4 separate regions of the Homo sapiens genome follow, and all the other regions are linked to region 4. Evidence: fine-mapped expression QTL. A gene starts in region 4. Each other region holds a variant in brackets. All regions are shown on one strand. Distances are from middle to middle.

The links. PIP is the estimated chance that this variant, and not a neighbour inherited with it, causes the effect.
Region 1: its variant is fine-mapped to the expression of THEM4 in whole blood (INTERVAL, PIP above 0.99).
Region 2: its variant is fine-mapped to the expression of THEM4 in whole blood (TOPMed, PIP above 0.99).
Region 3: its variant is fine-mapped to the expression of THEM4 in whole blood (TOPMed, PIP above 0.99).

Annotation. Positions count from the first base shown.
Region 1 is chr1:151,884,523-151,889,995 of GRCh38, forward strand. It overlaps THEM4 (thioesterase superfamily member 4), which reads right to left. Exons shown (of 6, transcript NM_053055.5): 3 at 4,692-4,851; 4 at 3,751-3,861. Among named protein-coding and RNA genes, the nearest start is that of THEM4, 22 kb to the right of the region's middle. The variant G/A (reference allele first, on the strand shown) is at 2,052.
Region 2 is chr1:151,930,450-151,935,922 of GRCh38, forward strand. All of the region lies in intron 1 of LOC124904421 (a long non-coding RNA gene), which reads right to left. Among named protein-coding and RNA genes, the nearest start is that of THEM4, 24 kb to the left of the region's middle. The variant T/A (reference allele first, on the strand shown) is at 2,158.
Region 3 is chr1:151,977,428-151,982,900 of GRCh38, forward strand. No RefSeq gene overlaps it. Among named protein-coding and RNA genes, the nearest start is that of S100A10, 14 kb to the right of the region's middle. The variant A/G (reference allele first, on the strand shown) is at 2,648.
Region 4 is chr1:151,906,655-151,912,127 of GRCh38, forward strand. It overlaps THEM4 (thioesterase superfamily member 4), which reads right to left and starts at 2,857. Exons shown (of 6, transcript NM_053055.5): 1 at 2,706-2,857. The coding sequence starts at 2,804. RefSeq lists enhancers at 1-142, 3,134-3,253, 3,242-3,829 and a silencer at 2,584-2,893.

The DNA.
Region 1 (5,473 bases), 22 kb before region 4:
TTCAGAGGAAATGTTCTGACCTTTACCAGCATACCATCTTATCAGGGTAATTTCTTCAGTTCTATATTTCTGTTCACTTTCAGCTGTGTTTAAATAGTCCTTTAACCTATTCACTGAGGTATTTTTTTGTTTTTAAACAATTACACTTTCATTTCCTTTTTTTTGTTTTTTTTTTGTTTTTTTTGAGATGGAGTCTCACTCTGTCGCCCAGGCTGGGGTACAATGGTGCAATCTCTGCTCACTGCAACCTCTGCCTCCTGGGTTCAAGTGATTCTCCTGCCTCAGCCTCCCAAGTAGCTGAGATTACAGGTGCGCACCACCACACCCAGCTAATTTTTGTATTTTTAGTAGAGACGGGGTTTCACCATGTTGGTCAGGCTAGTCTCAAACTCCTGACCTTGTAATCTGCCCATCTCAGCCTCCCAAAATGTTGGGATTACAGGCGTGAGCCACCATGCCCGGCCTACAATCTCATTTCTCAAAGTTTTATTAGGTTCTGTGGCAAACCTGCCTAATAATTTTTATAGTTTATCATTGTTTTCTCTTTTTGTGATTTCATCTTTTATTTATTTATTTATTTATTTATTTATTTATTTATTTATTTATTTATTTTTCTGATGGAGTATCGCTCTGTTGCCCAGGCTGGAGTGCAGTGGCACAATCTTGGCTCACTGCAGCCTCCATCTCCCAGGTTCAAGCGATTCTTCTGCCTCAGCCCCCCAAATAGCTGGGATTACAGGCACGTGCCACCACACCTGGGTAATTTCTGTATTTTTAGTAAAGTCAGGGTTTTGCCATGTTGACCAGGGTGGTCTTGAACTCCTGACCTCAGGTGATCCACCCGCCTTGGCCTCCCAAAGTGCTGGGATTACAGGCGTGAGCCACTGTGCCCAGCCTCATCTTTTATTTCTTTAAACATCTCATACTTTATTCATTTATATTGTGTATTTGATTATCATCATATCTTAGATCCCTGAGGTCTAAATCTTATTTATTGTTTCTGTTGATAGTCACCCTTGGTAGTTTCTTTCCTTGTGTATTTGGTACAGGATCTACTTGTTTTGAAGGAGGAATGTCCTTTAGCATTTCTTGTTTGCCATGTTGCATGAAGAAATCGAATCAGGAGCTTCTCAACTCATGTGTCATGAATGGGTCATTGGCATGCTGAGATATTTACCCTTTCAGCTGGCTTGTCATCACTAGTTTGACCTGCTTTGTCTATTTATCTTAATGTGCTAGGCACAAGGAAATAAATCAAGTGGGATATTTGGATCAGAGGGCTGGAAATTATTTGAAATCATTAAGGAATAATCTTGCTTCTTAAAGGAAGTAAGGTAGATTAAGGCATCTGATGATTAATTGACACTGCAAATTATTTTCAATTAAAATATAATCCCAGGTTGTTACCTGTAGCATCTTGAAGGACTGTCAAGTAATCATATTAAATTTAATATTATTACTATTATTATGAACCTAAATAACTGTATACAAAAAAACAGAGAGTGATAAATATTAAATTCTAAACTACTTATAAAATCCAATACTTTATTCTGGTCTTTAGTCATCAACTAACAGAAGACAATGGAGGCTGTGTGTTGTAGTGAAGAGCATCAGATTTGGTGTCATAAGATGTGAGTTCTAATTCTGACTAAATTGCTCTCTATCCATATGACTTCAGGTAAAACTTCTTTTCAGTATGTTTTCCAATTGTGGGGAACAAATGAACAGCAATGCAACTGATTTTTGTGGATGGTTTATTGGGTGGGACAAACACTAAGCATAGAGTTTGGCAGGTTCTGTTTCCCATTTTGCATTTGAGTATGTGCTTAAGACACAAACACTTTTTGAGATAAACAGCAATCTAAATACTTTGTTTCAGCTTGTTTTCAAAGTAACCGTTTACATTTATTTTTTTAGGAACGATGTTATACTTCATTATTCAACTTTATTTGAACATGGAAAAATATTTTTAAAAACATGGGACATGGAAAAATATAAAAAATTTAATTTTTAATATATTCTTTAACATGTTAAGAAAACCCAGATTTCTA[G/A]AATCTAATTTATAGTTATAACTAATATGAAATATTGACCATCTGTAAATATGTCAACTTTCCCCAAATTAATCTCTAGAATCAATGTAATTGCTATTAAAATTGTTAAAAGGAGGTACAATGACAATCTGGGTTTAAAGGTTAAAAATCTAAGGCACAACTAGGAATAGAAAGAAACTCTCTCAACATAATAAAGGCTATTTATGAAAACCCTACAACTAACATCATGCTGAATGGTAAAAGACTAAAACCTTTTCATTTAAGATCAGAAACAAGACAAGGATGCCCACTTTTGCCACTTCTATTCTACATGGTACTAGAAGTCCTAGCCAGAGCAATTAGGCAAGAAAAAGAAATCAAAGGTATTCAAATTGGAAAGGAAGAAGTACAAAGATCTGTTTACAAATGACATGACTTTGTATATAGAAAATCCTAAAGATTCCACAAAAACCTGTTAGAATGAATAAACAAATTCAGCAAAGCTGCAAGATGTAAAATCAACACAGAAAAAGCAGTTGCATTTCTATACACAAACAATGACTAATCCAAAAAGGAAATTAAGAAAACAATTAAGGCCAGGTGCAGTGACTCACATCTGTAATCCCAGCACTTTGGCAGGCCAAGGCAGGCGGATCACTTGAGGCCAGGAGTTTGAGATCAGCCTGGCCAACAAAGTGAAACACTGTCTCTACTGAAAATACAAAAAATTAGCCAGCTGTGGTGGTGCATGCCTGTAATACCAGCTACTTGGCAGGCTGAGGCATGAGAATAGCTTGAACCTGGGAAGTGGATGTTGCAATGAGCTGAGATCATGCCACCACACTCCAGCCTGAGCAATAAAGTGAGACTTTGTCTCAAAATAATAATAATAATAATAAAAAAATTAAAAATAAAAAAATCAAAAAGAATAAAATACATAGGAATAAACTTAACCAAAGAGCAAAAGTCTTATACACTGAAAACTACAAAACATTGATGAAAAAAATTAAAGACACAAATAAATGGAAAGACATCTGTGCCTGTGGACTGAAAAGACTCGGTGTTTTGTGTGTGTGTGTGTGTTTTTGTTGTTGTTGTTTTTTTTACAGTTGGGGTCTTGTTGCCCACCCTGGAGTGCAGTGGCATGATCCTAGCTCACTGTAGCCTTGAACTCCTGGGCTCAAGCAATCCTCTCAAGAAGCTAGGACTACAGACGTGCACTGCTGGGCCCAGCTAAATTTTTAAAAAATTAATTTTGTTATGTAGTAGATGTTGGTGCTCCACCCAGAGCCCCTTGGATCCTTTCTTCACTTGTTTTGGTTATTTTCTCTAGAGTCTGCTTTGCTCAAACACAGAGACCCTTAGAAGTACTTGGAAATTTATGGTCCCTGGGATGGCCCTGATCCTATGACCAATACATGCGAGAGTATAAAGACTCTAGCTCCCTCATCTGAGATGGAGACAATTCTGAGGCATAAATTTCATTCTAGAGCTCTCTTGTATGATCTGGCTAAAGCTATGCTTTGCTGGACTTTTGAGAGTTCAGCCTTGGTTGACACTTCTTCATCTTCCCCGTCCTGCTTCTCCCACTCCCTTGCTAGTCTCCTCTGGGAGCACTTCCTTAATAATCACTTGAACACAAATTATGGTGTCAAGATCTGCAACTGGGAACCTGACTTAACAACACCTAAGGATAAATAGAGAATTACTGTGAATTTACCTTTTATAATTGATGTTGAGATTGGCAGTCATGACGATTCCCCCAGCCATCATTGCACACATACCAACAGTAGCATCAATCATGGTTGCAATGGCACCTCCATGAATGAATCTAGTTACAACAGGAGTGGAGGAGAAATGTTTTCAGAAGTTCTGAAGATAGAGAGCCTCTTGAAAGAGAAAAATTATCCAAGCATCTTCACACTATTTACTTATGAAAGGTCCACTTAGCCCATGTTCAGTGTACTGAATGCCAAATACTATCTATGTCCCCAACTTTGTTTTGTTCACAGCATAATAATATAGTCTTAAGTATTTGTAATAAAACCAGAACTTAATAGTAACCAGATCGCAAGCAAGCAAAAAGCTAAAATGTAATTTAGAAAATTTATATTATGTTTTTATTATTAGTCAAGTGTGGTGTCATGTGCCTGTAGTTCTGGCTACTCGGGAGACTGAGGTGAGAGGATTGCTTGAGCCCAGGAGTTCGAGGCTGCAGTGAGCTATGATTATGCCACTGCACTTCAGCCTGGGCAAAGGAGCAAGGCCTTGTCTCACAAAACAAAACAAACTATACATATTCATTGTTTAGAAATGTAGGTAATGCAAATATGAAAAAAAAGAAAAAAATTTAGGACCCATAATACTACCCACCTAGTCAGTGACAAGCCACTGTTAACACATTAATGATATGCTCTCAAATTATACTCTATTGCCCTATGCCCTATAATATTATAATGCTCATATATAAAAATATTTAATCAATATTAATAATATAGATAAGATGTCCTTTAATAATGTATTATAAACATCTTTCCATGTCAATAAATATACATCTATGTGACCATTTGAAAATCTTTATTGTAGTCCATGTACAGGACACATGGGGGCAGTGTAAGATAAAAATCTTTTAGATCCACACTTTCAGGCTATCATTCTTACCCAGGTGGTCCTTCCAGGTAAGGGCCTCCTTGAAATAAGCAAACCATCCTTTTCTCAATGTCATTGTAGAACATCACGTATTCAAAGCCCAGGCCATCATCAAAGCTTCTGGTGAAGAGCTGGGCCTGTGACATTTGTTCTTCTTTCATAAGCTTTGGGTCTATAGAAAATGAGGTGGATGGCAAATGAGAAACAAGGGTGAGAGAAATGCCATGGCAGAGCCAAGCACCTGTACCCTGCTAGAATCACATGTCAATAGATGATTGATTCAAATGTCCACAGGGTGCAAAATTGAAAGGAATGGGAGCGTCTCAATGAAACAGAAGATAGGATCTTTGCCCTTGTGGAATTAACAGTCCAACTGGGGACAGAGTAAACAGACATGAAATCAAAATGAAGTACCCACACATGGCAATCAGGAATATAGTATATAAACGCTAACAATATACTGAATAAAATGGTACGGTAAAGACGGAAATCCTTCTTGGAAGAACTGTGGTTTAAATGCAATTTACAGAAAATAAAAAATGTAACAGAAAGGAGGTTTCCCTGGCAGACATGAGTTGAGTCTGAATCAGCAACAGGGTCAGTTCAGCCCAACACTCAAGTGATTGTGACTCTAAGCCCCCAAAACTGGCAGTGAGAACCATTAGGGTTCATGAAATCAGATTGTGGGTTGTAACCAGGCTTCTTTTTTTTTTTTTTTTTTTTTGACAGAGTTTCACTCTTATTGCCCAGGCTGTAGTGCAATGGCGTGATCTCAGCTCACCGCAACCTCCGCC
Region 2 (5,473 bases), 24 kb after region 4:
GGTTATAGTATACTGTGTACAGAGAAACTTTTAGGGAGAACTTAAAATATGGAAGGAGGCAGCTTTAGGCTAAACTTGATTTAACAGTTTCCTTATTTTGGTCATCTTCTCAATTTTGAGAAATTGACCAAAACTTTAGTCATTGTCACCATCATAAATGTACTTATTTGGTCTTCAAACCCACTGATAAATAGCAGACCAGTGGGTTTTGTAAGGTGGGAACAAGAACTTCAGATTATTTTTTTGGTAAGGGTTAGAGTAGAGGATACCTCCTCATGCTGGAATCTTCTGTTTACAGGAGAAAAATAAAACTTGGTCTGTTTTAGGATCTATCTGTTTCTTAAAGTCTTAGTTTGATGTGTCACATTTAGCATGAATTATTCCACTTTGGTTTGATCTGGTTTGTTGGGGCCTAGAGCCTGAGCTCAGTCCAAAACAATGGCCACTCATAATTTTGTTTAAAAACTCCCCGCTTTTGGTCAGGTTCTCCCTTAGGTGAGAGTATAACCAAAACTTAGAGCCTTAACGCTACTCTCAGTTACCATCATTTTGGGTTTTCATTCTCAGCATGTCATTCATAGGTTACAGTGCCCTCATGGTCACACATTTCTCTCAGCTCTTCTCATTCTAGTGGAAGAGAGACCATTTAACACTCTAGAGATGGCTGCATGCAAATATCTAAAAGTTTTGAGGGAATACGGCAGACCGGGGAGACTACTATTATGACTATCAAAAGGATAATGCCAAGAGTTTGGTGTATGCTCCTTAGCCAGGGTCCCCATGAACCAAACCAACTAAAATCAAATAGATCAAATAATGAGTTAGATTAATAGTCTACTCACTTTAACCAAGCAGCCTGTTTATTAATCCCCTATAACTGAGTCTTTATAATACTCTATGTATTTCTCCAAGGGCAACAAGAAGTGCCAGCAACTGCACAGATACTTTTCTGTTTAGCCAGTTAGTAATCTAGAGCCATTCTACTATTTGGCATAACTTTCACAAGATAATTTATTTATTTGATTTATTTTATTCTTTTTTGAGATGGAGTCTCACTCTGTCACCCAGGCTGGAGTGCAGTGGCATGATCTCGGCTCACTGCAACCTCCACCTCCTGGGTTCAAGAGATTCTCCTGCCGCAGCCTCCTGAGTAGCTGGGATTACAGGTGTGTGCCATCACGCCCACCTAATTTTTGCATTTTTGGTAGAGAAGGGGCTTCACCATGTTGGTCAGGATAGTCTTGAATGCCTAACCTCAAGTGATCCACCCACCCTCAGCCTCCCAAAGTGGTGGGATTACATGTGTGAGCCACCGCGTCTGGCGTGGAAGCTTGCTTTCTGAGATTCCAGGCTGTTCTCTTTAACTTGGATAAAGACCTTCTCTTTGGATCATCTCTCTTGTCCTTGTACTCCTCATTTTTAAAAACTGCATTCCCTGTAGTTTCTCCCTAGCATGGGTCCCTGTCTTGGAAGGGAGCCTTGGCAAATGAATTTTGAGTTCATAGGGGCCAGACTGCTCCAGCCCTCTTAAGTCCTTACTGTGGGCCTCTTGTACTTACCTCCTATTGGAGAGATCAGATCTTTCCCTTTTCAGCTGTGTCTTCCATACCTATTACTGTTGGAGAGTTCTCAGGTCCATCAGACACTGTCTCCATTTCTTCATTCTTCTTCCTCACACACTGATGCAGAAACCATGCAAGTTTTGTGACTGCTGGTTTGTCCCCACTTGTTTGTATTTTGAGGCTCGTGGGAATACTTTGTCATTTGTTTTTTTGTAAATGTCTGTAGGGTTTGGTTTTGCTATCTAGTTGAGACTTAGCCTGTTCAGGCTGCTATGACAAAATACCTTAGAGAGAGTAATTTACCAACAACAGAAATTTATTTCTCACAGTTGTGGAGGCTGAGAGGTTCAAGGTCAAGGCACTGGCAGACTCAGTGACTAGAGAGGGCCTGTTCTTCATAGGTAGTGCCTTCCATGTGTCCTCACATGGCAGAAGGGGTGAACAGGCTCTCTTGAGCTTCTTTTACAAGGGCACTAATCCTACCCACAAGGGCAGAACCCTCATGATAGAATCCTTTCCCAAAGGCCCTACCTGTTAATATCATCACCTTGGGAGTTAGTTTTCTATATGTGGATTTTGGGGGCAGGGGAGTCAC[T/A]AACATTCAGACAATAGCAAGTTGCTCGTTTGTTTTTGTGTTAGGATTAGGAAAGATTGAACACCTATGCTGTTGCCCCTGCTGCTGCCATCTTCCCAGAATCTACTATGCTACAGTGTACTTTGCTTTTTGTGTGTGCATATATATATATATATATATATATATATATATATATATATATACACACACATATATATGTATATATGCTTTTGTGTATATATATACATATATATGTGTATATATATATACATATATATGTTTAAATTAATAGACTTTATTTTTTAGAGCAGTTTTAGTTTCACAGAGAAACTGAGTAGTAAGTACAGAGAATTACTATTTACCCCTACCCTCTTCAAACCCAAACAGCTTCTTCTATTATCAATGTCATGCGTTAGTGTAGTGCATTTATTACAATTGATGAGCCAGCAGTGATATTTTAACCAAAGTCCTTAACTTACATTAGGGCTCATTCTTTTTGTTGTATAGTTCCATAGCTTTTGACAGCTGTGTAGTGCCATGTGTATTATATTTCTGTGAGCGTTAAAAAGAAGAATGACCCTCTGCTTAGAAGCGGCTTACCTGTTTCTGGTACAGACACCTTAACACATGGATTTATGCAAGGGTTTTCATGGAGGGGATTCTATGTAATACAACAAATAACAACCTCAAAGAATCCTAACTGTAAAGACAACAAAAGTCTCACAGGGCTAAACCATGTAATGTCTCTTAATTAAGCTGATGGCATCAAATTTCAGTGAAAGAAATTCAAAGGGAATGGAGGCGACCCAGCAGAGGGGGCAAAACAATATAGTACAGTTATTCAGCTTTCTGGTAATCTGGCCTCAGAGAAACATGTACTGTGACTTATATATACTTCAGATAATCTTGCATAAAGTTTTTTGATAGATATTGAGAGGCAGCACCAACAATATAAATGTTTTCTTATTAGACATTCTTTCTCAAATGCAAGCCATTGTTTTGCTTGAGATTCTAAGTCTGGGTTCTCTGCAAGAGGAGAGATGGGCTTTAAACATGGGTAATAGTCCACTGACAACTGTGACATTTCACCAGCTAGTGTAGAAAGGCATTGGGAATAGCACCAGATTTCTTGTAGCCTTTTTTGTTTTTGTTTTTGTGTGGAACTGTTTGCAGCTATATGTTCCATAAAGTTTTAACCTTTCCAAGTGGTTTTAACCTTTCCAATCAGACTATATTAATAGTAACTGTTTTCCATTTATTTAAAAAACTTTTTTCTTCCATTTCTTTTGAAATTACCTTATAATACCACTGACTATACACAAGGGGGAGATCACATAATTTGTTGACAATTTTGATCAGTATGTTGTCACCAAAACTGCACATTAACCCGAAAGAGCCAAAAGAGTGTGTATAAGTTTCCTCTTGTTGCTATAACAATTATTACAAACTTAATGGCTTAAAGCAACACAAATTTATTATTTTACAGTTCTGGAGGTCAGAAATTTGAAGTGGGTCTCAGGGGGCTGAAATCTAGGTGTCAGCAGAGCTGTACTCCTAGAGGCTCTAGGGAAGAATCTGTTTTCTTCCTTTTTCCAGCCTCTAGAGGGAGCCCACATTCTTTGGCTTGGTCCCTCAGCCAGCAATTGTAAAACTACCTCTGCTTCTGTCGTCCCATTTTCTGTAACTCTTCCGCACCTTTCTTCCTTGCACCCTACACCCTTGTTATTACATTGGGCCTGCCCATGTAATCCAGGATAATCTTCCCATCTCAAGATCCTTACTTAATCACATCTGCAAATCCCTTTTGCCATGTGTGGTAACGTATTCACAGACTCCAGAGACTTACTTGGACCTTTTTGGGGGCCCATTATTCTGACCTCCACAAGTGTATTTAGATAATTATCTATTCTTCCATTTATTTTTGTCCTGAATCTTCTGGATTTTTGGTTAGTAGGTAAAATTTTTGACTATTATAAATTTCCTTTGAGTAATTAGGAAGATTTTATACATTTTAAATTATTTCCTGGTAAACTTTTAGGCTGATATTCGTCAATAAATGAACAGGTTATATCTATCTCAATACCTAACAGTTTATTCTTTAAGTGATGACTATTATCTAATTAGGGACTTGGAAGAACTTCAAAGCTTAGTCTTCTAGATTTTACAAAGTGATAGATTGCTCTATTATTTATCATTTTGTTTCCAAACTGAGTATAAAATAGTCAATAGATACGTAAAATGAGACCTCAGAGCTGTTTCCTCTTTTGCAAAGTGAGCGATAAGATGCTCCCCACCTCTCTGTCCAGTTCTTACATTCAATAGAAAGACTAAATACGCCTAGAAGACAATGAAATACGTTGAGTGACTCAAAGTTGCTCAGAAATTACCATGAGGAATACCCATCCTAGCTTTCCTTGAACCCTGGACTGCAGTGCTCATCACCATCAAATCTCATGGAATATCTGGTGGGCTAGATTTTGAGTTGTTGCTTTTTGGGTACTCTGCCAGGTGGTATTGTACAGCAGACACATTAAAAGTGACTGAAGTGCAATATTTGTGTCCTCCCCTGAGTGGGATTAGGATCAGAGAAAGTAGGTTCTAAGACATAGAAACCTGTCATGTGAAAAGTCTTTAGGTGAACAAACTGCAGAAAATTTACGGTTGCAAGAAAAAAGTACAATGAGTTCTAAGACCCTCCTGGAAAATGAGGTTGAGTCATTCTGAGGATAGTGCTTCTCACAGGGGAGCTGGGAGGGGAAGGAGGCAGGGCAGAGCTGGCAGCTGCAGGAAGCATGGGCTCTGCCTGTAGGATTTTTCATTCCATAGCAGAAACCACGGAAACTGCAGCCATCTTCATCATGGAGAGGGCTGGGGAAAACAAAGTGGGGAGAATAAAGAACGGGAGATTATCACAAGACTATTACTTATATTCCCTTGGTTTCTGGTATCACAAGGGTTGTAGAGCACTTAACAATTTTTTTTTTCCTTGAGACGGTCTCGCACCCAGGCTGGAGTGCAGTGGCATGAACATAACTCACTGCAGCCTCGACCTCCCAGGCTCAAGCAATCTTCTCGCCTTAGTTCCCCAAGTAGCTAGGCGCACACCAACATGCCCAACTAATTTTTGTATTTTTTGTAGAGACGGGGTTTTGACATGTTGCCCAGGCTGGTCTCGAACTCCTGAGCTCAAGCAATCTGCCTGCCTCAGCCTCCCAAAGTGTTGGGATTACAGGCGTGAGCCACCGTGCCTGGCCACAATATATTTTTCTCTTTGGAATGAGGTAATAAAAGCAACCACTTACTGAGGAGCTCCCAGTACTAGATATTAAATGAGCCA
Region 3 (5,473 bases), 71 kb after region 4:
GTGCTCTCTTGCCCACGCTGGAGTGCAGTGGCATGATCTTGGCTCACTGCAACCTGCCCCTCCTGGGTTCAAGCGATTCTCCTGTCTCAGCCTCCCAAGTAGCTGGGATTACAGGCATGCGCCACCACGCCTGGCTAATTCCCACTTTCATGCATTTAAAAAAATATACAGTAGCTACCATTAGAGTGAACATACCGTTTTTCAGATGAGTTGGAATCTCAGTGGGAAACTAGATGAGCTAATGTTCTATCAGAGGCTTTTCTCACCTAGACGCTGTGGCCCTATCATCTTGATTTTTTTCCCTCTCAATTTTGGCATGACTTGCCAGAGGTCAAATTTTTTTCCTCTGTACTTAGAGCTTCTCAGAAAGATAAAAGTGAATCCCATCCCTGTTTTATCTTTTGTAGCCAGAATGTGATTGGAATGTGAGCAATGGAGAAAAGTGGGTTGAACATTCACAAGAACATACTGTCTGATTGTCTCCTTTTAGACGAGGGCCACCTCTTTTTCCCGAAGGAGTAGTAATAACCCAAACCTAGGACCTGTAGAGATTTTTATTGAGCAAACTCACCCACAACATATCCTTTATTCTTTCCATTTATCATTCCTTTAACACCTCCTGCCTGTCCTATCCCACCTACACACACTTTCTGCAGTGAGCATACACCACTTTAGACATGCTGGATTCTACGTGGCCTCCTGAGTTTTCTGTGTCCTGGACATTCCTTTGCTCCATCATTACTACGTCCAGGGATGCAGCAGAGAAGAGTGGCTAAAATCTTAGACCACCTGTGTTCAAATCCTGCCTCCACCTTGGTCAAATCACCTGTAAAGTGGGAACAGTAATAGTACCTACTTCATAGTTGTTGGGAGGAACAAACGAGTTAATACTTGTGAAGCACTAGAACAGAGCCTGCAATGTAGTAAGAACTCAATGTTAGCTGGTATCCAAATCTAAATTTCTTCCAATCTTCAAAGACCAGATAACATCTTATCTCTTACACAAAATCTTATCTGACTAGCCTCATCTAACCCACGAAATCTCTTACTTTTTTGAAAGAATAACACAGTTGATAGTTAATTTACTCAAATAGCCCCTTGAGACAACTGCAGAATACAAGCTGCTCTGCCTATGGAGTAGCCACTCTTTATTCCTTTCCTTGCTTTTCACTTTACTCTAAAAAAGAAAAAAGAAAAAGAAAAAAAGGAAAGAAAGGGAAGGAGGGAAGGAAGGAAGGAGGGAAGGAAGGAAGGAGACTATCTTGATATCTGGGTTTAAATCTTGAAACAATAAGTGCTGTGGGACTTTGAGGGAGTTACTTAAGTCTTAGTTTTGTCATCTGTAAAATGGATGTTATAATACCTTCACAGGGTTATTGTGAGGTCCAAGTAAGATAAATGCTTAAAAAGTATCTCATACAGGTCCTGACTCATGGTAGACCCTCAATAAATACACAGGCTCTTTCAAAATATATTATTTAAAATTTTATGGATTGTGAAAGTGCAAGTGCATGTAGGTGGGCTAGGAAGGAATTGCATAGAAAATTAAGATAATATAGCACTGTATATAAAGAAAATTACAATAGTCTCATAAACGTCTTTCTGGAGCAACAATTTCCCTGGCCAGTAACTCCTACTCTGGAAACTAAATACAGCTGGGTGTATTCCCTTTAGTTTCTCTCTCTCTCTCTCTCTCTCTCGCTCGCTTGCTCTTGCTCTCACTCTTGCTCTCTCTCTCTCTCTCTCTCTGTGTGTGTGTGTGTCTTTGCAGGCATGCACTCAAGCAGACACGCATATTTAGAAAAGAAAGGAATCCGATTATATACCAATTTTGCAGTCTGCTTTACTTTACATAGACATTTCCCCATCTCATTTAATATTTTTCAAAGTGATGGTTTTGATGGGCCATATAGCATCCCATGTACATCTAAACAATCTAAACATAACTTATTTAACCATGACCCCATTGTTGAATATTGAGGTTTTCTTTAGGTTTTAGCTATTCTAAATAATGCTGCATCAAATAGCTTTGTATATGAATATCATAAGTATCTTTGATTATTTTGCTAAGAGAAATTCTTAGGAATAGAAATACTGGGTCAAAGAAAACACATTAAAGGATTCAGGTACATATTGCTAACTTTTGCCTTTCTGAAAGGTCGTGTGAATTACATACCTATCAACAGTGACCAGAGGTGCCCATCACATGTCTCCCTTGCCAATGCTCTGTTGTGTTGACGGAGTCTCGCTCTGTCGCCCAGGCTGGAGTGCAGTGGCATGATCTCGGCTCACTGCAAGCTCCGCCTTCCGGGTTCACGCCATTCTCCTGCCTCAGCCTCCCGAGTAGCTGGGACTACAGGCGCCCACCACTGCGCCCAGCTAATTTTTTGTATTTTTAGTAGAGACGGAGTTTCACCGTGGTCTCGATCTCCTGACCTCGTGATCCGCCCGCCTCTGCCTCCCGAAGTGCTGGGATTATAGGCGTGAGCCACCGCGCCTGGCCTGCTTTATCTATTATCTTTCAATCTAGATTGTAATCTTCTTGAGCAGGCACTGTGGTCATCTGCTTCTTCGTACCTGCCTTTATACAGAACATTGCTTGGTGCCATTCACATGGTAGCCCTTGCTAATATTTGCCAAGTGAATG[A/G]ATTTCTATTCACAACTATCCCTGTGGGGTTAAGAGCTGGAGAAGGGACTTGAACAATTACTTGACCAATCACGAATTGGTCAAATTTGAATGAGAGAGGTTTGTAGACTTGTCCTCGGTCTCCTAGTGAGATGGGTTAGGTAGAAAACTATTAAATCACAGGTAGTTGGCCGCTGTTCAGGGGACTTGGACAAGGGAGTGGGTCCAAGAGAGAAAAATGATGTTTTTCAGGGTCAGCTCTGCAGCGTGTTGGAAACTGACTTTCTGCACTGCTATTCATTCTTTTTTTGTAACTGGGTGTGGGGAGGGGCGGGATCTACTTTTTACAACTCAGCCATGTAGCAGAATGAGTGGAATTTTCCAGATGGTTCCTCTTGATGACTGTTGGCATAATGGCAGTTTTGCCCCTTGGGAGCCATTGGGCTGCAACCCCTGAAGCCTAGACAGCAGTTTTAGCAGGTCAGATTGTGGGATCCGTGTGTTTTTGTTGGCACAAAGAGCCATGTGGGATTTCAAGCCATAAATACCATTTTTATTTTCCTCATACAGCTCCCTACTAAATGAGCAATGAGGCCAAAGCGAGGAAGGTGCCATAACCCTTTCCCTCAATACACATACACATCCATCCCAAATACAGTGACTCAGATCATTTCCTGGCACTGGGCACCTTCTGAATGAGAGTTTGGGGTAATCTGCTGGGAATAACACATTGCTTCAGAATTTTTCTGAATCTACACACCCACTGTGAAGATGAGTTGATGCTTCCTTTCTCTTACCCTGAGAGCCTCCCTCCTCCTGGGATAGTTGTGTTTTTGTTTTCAGGTAAAAGAGGCTTAGAGTGTGAAAGTTTGCTATGGATTTCAGGACATGTGAGCTCATAATATCTCCCTTTTATAATCTTCCCCATTCATTTGTGAGTTGACCACTAATCCTCCTAATACCCAGTAAACACAGTTGCCCAGGAGGCAGGTTAACCAAAGGGGTGAATCTGGACTGACACAAATTCTCATGGATTGCCTTACTGTGATGGGCCAGTTTTTTTTTCTTGTCTCTATTACAGACGTCATCTTCCAGAGCCTCCTTTCCTTAGAGCCACAATTTCTTTAACTTCCAGGTTGGAAGACTTCACGTAGGATTAGGAATTGTCACTGTGGTAGAATCAGCTGCTAATGTGCAAAGGTTGGAAAATGTTAGAACTTTATTTCCCAGAGTCCCTTGCGGTTAGGAATTTGTTGTGGTTAAGGCTCTGCCAGTCAGATGCACCTCACTGAGACTTGGATATGAGAGCCCAGCCGTATGTGGAAAGAGGGAGGGTGATGGGGATGTGCGTTTGCTTGTGCAGACTGTGCCATGGTCCTGGAGCAGCCAGCTGTGGCTATGGCTCCTCATTCAGCAGGCAGCTTCCTGAGCCAGCAGCTCCTTGGCGGCCCAGTTCTGTAGCATGGGTTTGGAAGTCATTCCTGGAGTCAATCTAGAGTCACTTCTTTAACTAATCAACTCCCCTCCTTCATTAATACTCCCGTAATAAATTCCTCTTTGTAAACTTGCTGATATAATGCTTCAGCCGCAAAGCTATGGTTTGTTTTACACTGTTCATTTGTTGACTGAGAAAAAATAAAATGGTTGGAATGTTTTCCTTTTTTATTATGGATTTCTTTCTACCAAAGCCAGTTTTGAACTATCCTGTTCTCTTTTGCATGCTTTTCCTTGTGACTATCGATAACCTTATATTGCACTTTTTCCCAGAGTGAGATGGAAGTTTTTCCCAGAGTTAATATTGATGTGTCCAATCAAAAAAGTAAATATTCCAGGCCGGGCGCGGTGGCTCACGCCTGTAATCCCAGCACTTTGGAAGGCCGAGGCGGGCAAATCACAAGGTCAGGAGATCGAGACCATTCTGGCTAACACGGTGAGGCCCCGTCTCTACTAAAAATACAAAAAATTAGCTGGGCATGGTGGCAGGCGCCTGTAGTTCCAGCTACTCGGGAAGCTGAGGCAGGAGAATGGTGTGAACCTGGGAAGGTGGAGTTTGCAGTGAGCCGAGATTGCACCACTGCACTCCAGCCTGGGTGACAGAGCAAGCCTCCGTCTCAAAAAAAAAAAAAAAAAGTAAATATTCCATCTTCTTTGACCTATTTACTTGGAACAATGCTATGTGCCAATTCATGGAATTCATATATCACCTCTCCATAAAAGCATAGAGTACTGTGTTATTAATAAGCATATAGCATTGATGCACATATACCCTGAAGCTTCTAACAGGCACAAAAAAGGGCTAGGAGGAACATTTTGCATTGATTATCAAGACATCAGTACTGACACTTCATTTTCAACAAAAGTGTACTGCCCCGTGTATAAGTCATGCCTACCATATTTCCTGACATCTGGGAGTTGACTTAATAGATGCTAATGTGATGTTATTACCAAGGTGTCAAGCTACACCCTCTCCTGATTGGTTCTCCTAGTTCTGCCTTAGGTTTGCTGACACTTTGCTATGAAAATTGGATTCAGACATTGCAGGCATGCAAAGTGCTGGCTAGAAAAGCACTGATTTAACTGGGCAAAACTGTGCCCAGTAATTATAAACTTACCATCTATTCCTGTAGAGCCTTCTCCTAATCCTTCAAGTTTGAGTCCTTCATATAGACACAGCTACAAGGGCAGAACAATTAGAGAAGTCAGACTCCAAGCCTGAATGAAGAGTGTTTTCTCATTTTGCCAGTTCTGTGAGAAAAGCTCTGCTGTGTAAGAAAAGCTCTGCTGTGTGCTGGCTGCCCAAGGGCAAGCTGCCTCTTGGGGAACAAGAATTTCTGAGGGAACAACAAA
Region 4 (5,473 bases):
ACCAATCGGCACTCTGTATCTAGCTCAAGGTTTATAAACACACCAATCAGCACCCTATGTCTAGCTCAGGGGTTGTGAATGCACCAATCGACACTCTGTATCTAGCTACTCTGGTGGGGACTGGGAGAACCTTTGTGTTGACACTCTGTATCTAGCTAATCTGGTGTGGACGTGGAGAACCTTTGTGTCTAGCTCAGGGATTGTAAATGCACCAATCAGGGCCCTGTCAAAACAGACCACTTGGCTCTACCAATCAGCAGGATGTGGGTGGGGCCAGATAAGAGAATAAAAGCAGGCTGCCCAAGCCAGCAGTGGCAACCCGCTCGGGTCCCCTTCCACACTGTGGAAGCTTTGTTCTTTCGCTCTTTGCAATAAATCTTGCTGCTGCTCACTCTTTGGGTCCACACTGCCTTTATGAGCTGTAACACTCACCGCGAAGGTCTGCAGCTTCACTCCTGAAGCCAACGAGACCACAAACCCACCGGGAGGAACGAACAACTCCAGACGTGCTGCCTTAAGAGCTATAACACTCACCACGAAGGTCCGCAATTTCACTCTTGAGCCAGCAAGACCATGAACCCACCAGAAGGAAGAAACTCTGAACACATCCGAACATCAGAAGGAACAAACGCCGGACATGCCGCCTTTAAGAACTATAACACTCACCACGAGGGTCCGTGGCTTCTTTCTTGAAGTCAGTGAGACCAAGAACCCATCAATTCCGACACAGTATGTAATCCTGAATTATGCACCTGTCACAATTTGATGAATTAATTGCCTTTGTGCTGCCTCTGTATCCTTGCTTTCACGCCACTATGCTTCACGCCACTGTAAGCTTGTTTCAAGCTAGCCCACCCCCTTTTAAAAGTGTGTATTAAAGTCAAGTGCTGTCTTTGTTCTGGGCCCAGCTTTTGGATGTTAGTCCGCTGGGTCTGAGTGCACTCAATAAAGTTCTCCTGTCTCACCCCATGGCCTCTCCAGTCCTCCTTCATTCCTGCAACAGAAGGATGAGTGAAATGGGGACTCAAAACCTCTCACTTTCATTTCTGAGCCTTTTGGTCTTATGGCATTCCTCTTCTTTTTGGGGGGACAGCAACGGCACCTATTTTTCTTTTTACGATACTGGAGGTGGTCCACACCCACCCCAATGGTCACCAGTGCACTCACAAGACAGTTGGGTGGGGTAGCTCCCTGGCCCCACTTCTTTACTGGCTGGGGTGCATGGTGGTGTCTGCAGCATGTGTGTGTGGTGTCCAGTAGCCACACAGGGCATAAATGAGCCACAGCCACTGCCCAGGCTCCAAGGCGCCGGCATGGCTGGCTGGCGTTCCCTACCAGGTGCCTGCAGTCTCCCCCTCCCCATTCCAGGGAGTCTAGCTCTGTCCCACAGCAATTAAGCTCCTCTCTCTGGTGGAGGAACCATTTGCATAGGAATAAGAGGTTCTTCCCCCAGGCATCCTTATCTCCTCTCCAACCCATCAGCAGTATACTTTTAAAGGAGGTTTTTCTTTTCCTTTTGGAAGACGTTTTGCTCTTTTGGGAATGATGAGGATTACCGTTTATATTTTCTGTAAAGTTTTGTGCGAAAGGATTTGTGAGGTAAGTCGTAAGCTGTAGCCAATCTGTGTGTTTTGCATGTCTTTCTGTATGCTCCACAGCAAACTTCGCTGCAGGCCTCCATCTTGTTTTACGTCCTTGGGGGCGTGGCCTGTAACCCCATTGCATAGCTTCGTTTAGCCCGGCATGGCCCAGATTCATCCTGGCTTAGGGAATGAGTCCTTTCTGGTTTGGTATCTGTATGCCCTTTCGCTATTTGTCGATTCCCCTGCCCTCCACCAACCACCTTGGATTTTCCTTTCTCTGAGCCTTTAAGTAAAGTTTGAAAGCCAGAAATATTGGCCGCTTGGTGGAGCTAAAGTTAGATAATAAGGGTGTTAAAAGAATTTTCTTAAGGAGTGCTCAGCTTAATTAAAAGTAGATATCTAAGTTGTAATTATATTTATAAGGCCTTTATGTTTTCCTTTTCTTGGACCTTATTTTGCTGGAAAAAGTGTTTCTTTGCGGTCGACTGAGTTATTTTTCTCCATTTTGCCTTGCCACTTTTAATGCCTGCATAAGAGGGGCGATCTCTGTTTTCCTCATGGAACCCCAGGAATTAAAAGCAGATAGATCCCTCTCCCTGTGATGAAAGATCTTATGGCAACTGGGTTTTCTTCTGCCTGTCTGTGTAGTTATATATGTGTTGTGTGTGATGTCTATAAAAAGATCTCTAATTAATTGACCTAAAGGAAGATAAGCGTTTGGATCAAATATTTTTTTAAAGGGAAGATAAAAGCTGTGGTATCTTTTAGTTCACGTCACTTTAATCTTTGAAAAATAAAAACAGCCTCAAATATTATTGGTAAAATACAGATGTTGTCAAAATATAAATAGACAGACTAAATTATGCAGTTCAGGTAGCGCCCTGCCGACCCTGTCTCTTAAAAAACAAAAAAACGGGGTCACCTTTCCATCCCTTTTCTAACGGTTTGAATCTCAGGACTGTATTCCTAGGCCCCTGTTGCTTATGCTGCCCTGTGGTGCCCAGGTGAGCTTTTATTCTGAGATTGGCTGGTTGGGGTATGGATAACAATCGAAGGCTCTGTTACCGCAGGCGTGTTTCTGAGTCCTGCTCCCGCCCCATGCCCGAGGGTGCCCAGACTCACCAGCTCGGGTCGCGGCTCGCTTCCCGGCAGGCGCCGGCCTACTGGCGGCAGGCACAGAGCCCCCAGCGTGCGGAGGCGCGCGGCGCAGCTCCTCAGCATGGCTCCGGGCCGCGGGGCCGCGCTTGCTCTAGCCCTGGACGGCGCACTCTACCTCCGCCACAAGAGCGCGCGTGCGAGTTAACCCCTGGGGTGGACGCAGGGCGGGGCTTGGGGAGGAGGCGGTGCGCACTACTGGCGGCTGGCTGGCCGGGGTGTGAGGCCGGCGGGGTCCGGGTAGGGCATCGCTGTTGAGTCTATCTTCTGGTTCCGGCCTTTTCTTTCCGAAGACCTCCCGCTGCGGCCAACAGCCGGGCCACTTCCGGGGCTTCTCAAAGGCAAGAGGAGCGCGGCCGGAGCGGATCCCGGTTATCGCCTTGGGCCCCTCAGCCCCTCAGCCCCGGAACCCGCGCGCCGACTGGAGGCTTTGCGGTCATCCTTCCCACATGACCCAGGGCGTACGCAGTGCTCCGTGTCCCCAAGTAGTTATCCCTCCCCCGGAAGACTGAAGTCCCTGGGGCGGGTAGGAGCGCACGCTAGGAGTAGTATGAATAAAGTGTTTTCTTGGAGGTCATGGGCAAGTCTCTGGACAGGGTTGATAGTGCTGATTTATAGAGGGCAGTCTGGGCACAAAGAGCATTTATACGATCGAAAAGCTGCTTTCCCTGCCAACAGCCCCATACCCTCCCCAGGAGCGCGCTTACGCCTTAAAAGACTCTTTTGTTATGTAAACTGACAGTTAAATTAAACGAAGGTAATGGATACTAAAGGCGTAACAGGTATTGTAACTATTTTACTGTTATCGATGCTTTTGAGGTTACTTACCTCGCTTGTATTCGTATGGTGGGAATACTAGGCGCATACCTTCTGAGCTTCGAATTCAGTAACCTCACTGGGACCTTGAAATCGGACTGGGTTGGAGTATTCCCATTACTCAGATAATGCAAATCCGGGCCATCATACCCCTTTATTTTTAAATGCTTACCAGTATGCCATAGCCCTAGTCCATCCTAAGGTGAAGACTCTAATGGGTTTTTTTTGAGACAGAGTCTCGCAGAGATACTGCTATTGCACTTCAGCCTGGGCAACATACTGATGCCCCATCTCAAAAAAGCAATAAATTAAAAAGAAAACTCGAATGACCTGAATGCATTAGATATTTTGCCTTGATTCCTTTCCCATGAACAACTCCAGCAGTTTGTCAGTAGGTAAGAACACCTAGATACATTTTAAGCCTACACTATTAACTGGGGGAAGGTGTAACATTCTGAGAGAAAGGGAATTGGGGAGAGAAGGCAATGCAGTTAGGAGGGGCCCCTTGGAATCCTAGAGCTACTGAACCGAAGATCAGGCATAAAGGATGGTTGTTGAGATTCTGTAATTCTAAGAGGTTGTATTCTGATATCTCCTAAGCACCCCCCCCAACCTCCCACATTCCCTTTATCTCAGTTGTCTTCCTTTTTAATATATTAATAGTATTGCAGTTTCCTGGTGGCAGGGATGGGGTCAGATTGCCTTATTAATTGTAACAACGTGCACGTAGTGCTTGAATACTTACTTAGCAGCAAGAATCCAAAGTATCTTTGGTGTCTGTTGTCTTCCCATGTTGTGCGTGCAGATGGAGGCACGAGCATAACGTAAATCTCTAAAATTGAGATGACTACTGTTAATGAATAGAAAAGTTTATTCAGGTAACTTAAAATTGCATCTATTTACAATTTACAGTGTAGTCAAATCAATCAATACCTATAGACTTCAACCCTGCTAAGATTGTCTATATGATTAATGTACCAATAGCTCACCTAACAGCTTCCTTTTGTTTTTTTGAGATGGAGTCTCACTCTGTTGCCCAGGCTGGAAGTGCAGTGGCATGATCTTGGCTCACTGCAACCTCTGCCTCCAGGGTTCAAGCGATTCTCCCTGCCTCAACCTCCCGAGTAGGTGGGATTACAGGCGCGTGCCACCACATCTGGCTAATTTTTATATTTTTGGTAGAGACGGGGTTTCACCCTGTTGGCCAGGCTGGTCTTGAACTCCTGACCTCAAGTGATCTGCCTGCCTCCCAAAGTGCTGGGATTACCAGCATGAGCCACTGCACTCGGCACCTATCAGCTTCTTAAAAGACCTTAGACTTAGGGCAATTAGAGGTCAGTTACACTGAGTTTAAACTTCATTAAATTTTAACTCTAAATTTTTCAAGTAGCGGCAGTGCATTTAGTTAAGTCATCCACACTCTTGCATGGCTTACTCTGGGATATTCGTGTTGACAGCACATATAAAATGTCTGGTCAGATTTGGAAGAGGAAGGGCAGGTTACAGTCTAGAAATAGGATTGATAGGCTATGGAAGTGAAGGAGTTTGAAGCTTGTATGGTTTAGGCAAGGAACAAATGTTCAATCTTGATAGAACTAGGCTTCGAATAAGCCAATGGTATGAAACTTAATAGTCTTCTCACCATTCTTTAATTTTGTAGACAGCTTTATTGAGGTGTAGTTGCCATAGGATGGGCACCGTGGCTCATACCTGTAATTCCAGCACTTTGGGAGGCTGAGGTGGGTGGATCACCTGAGGTCAGGAGTTTGAGACCAGCCAGGCCAACATGGTGAAACCCCGTCTCTGCTAAAAATACAAAAATTAAGGCCGGGCGCAGTGGCTCACTCCTATAATCCCAGCACTTTGTGAGGCTGCAGCGGGCAGATCACGAGGTCAGAAGATTGAGACCGTCCTGGCTA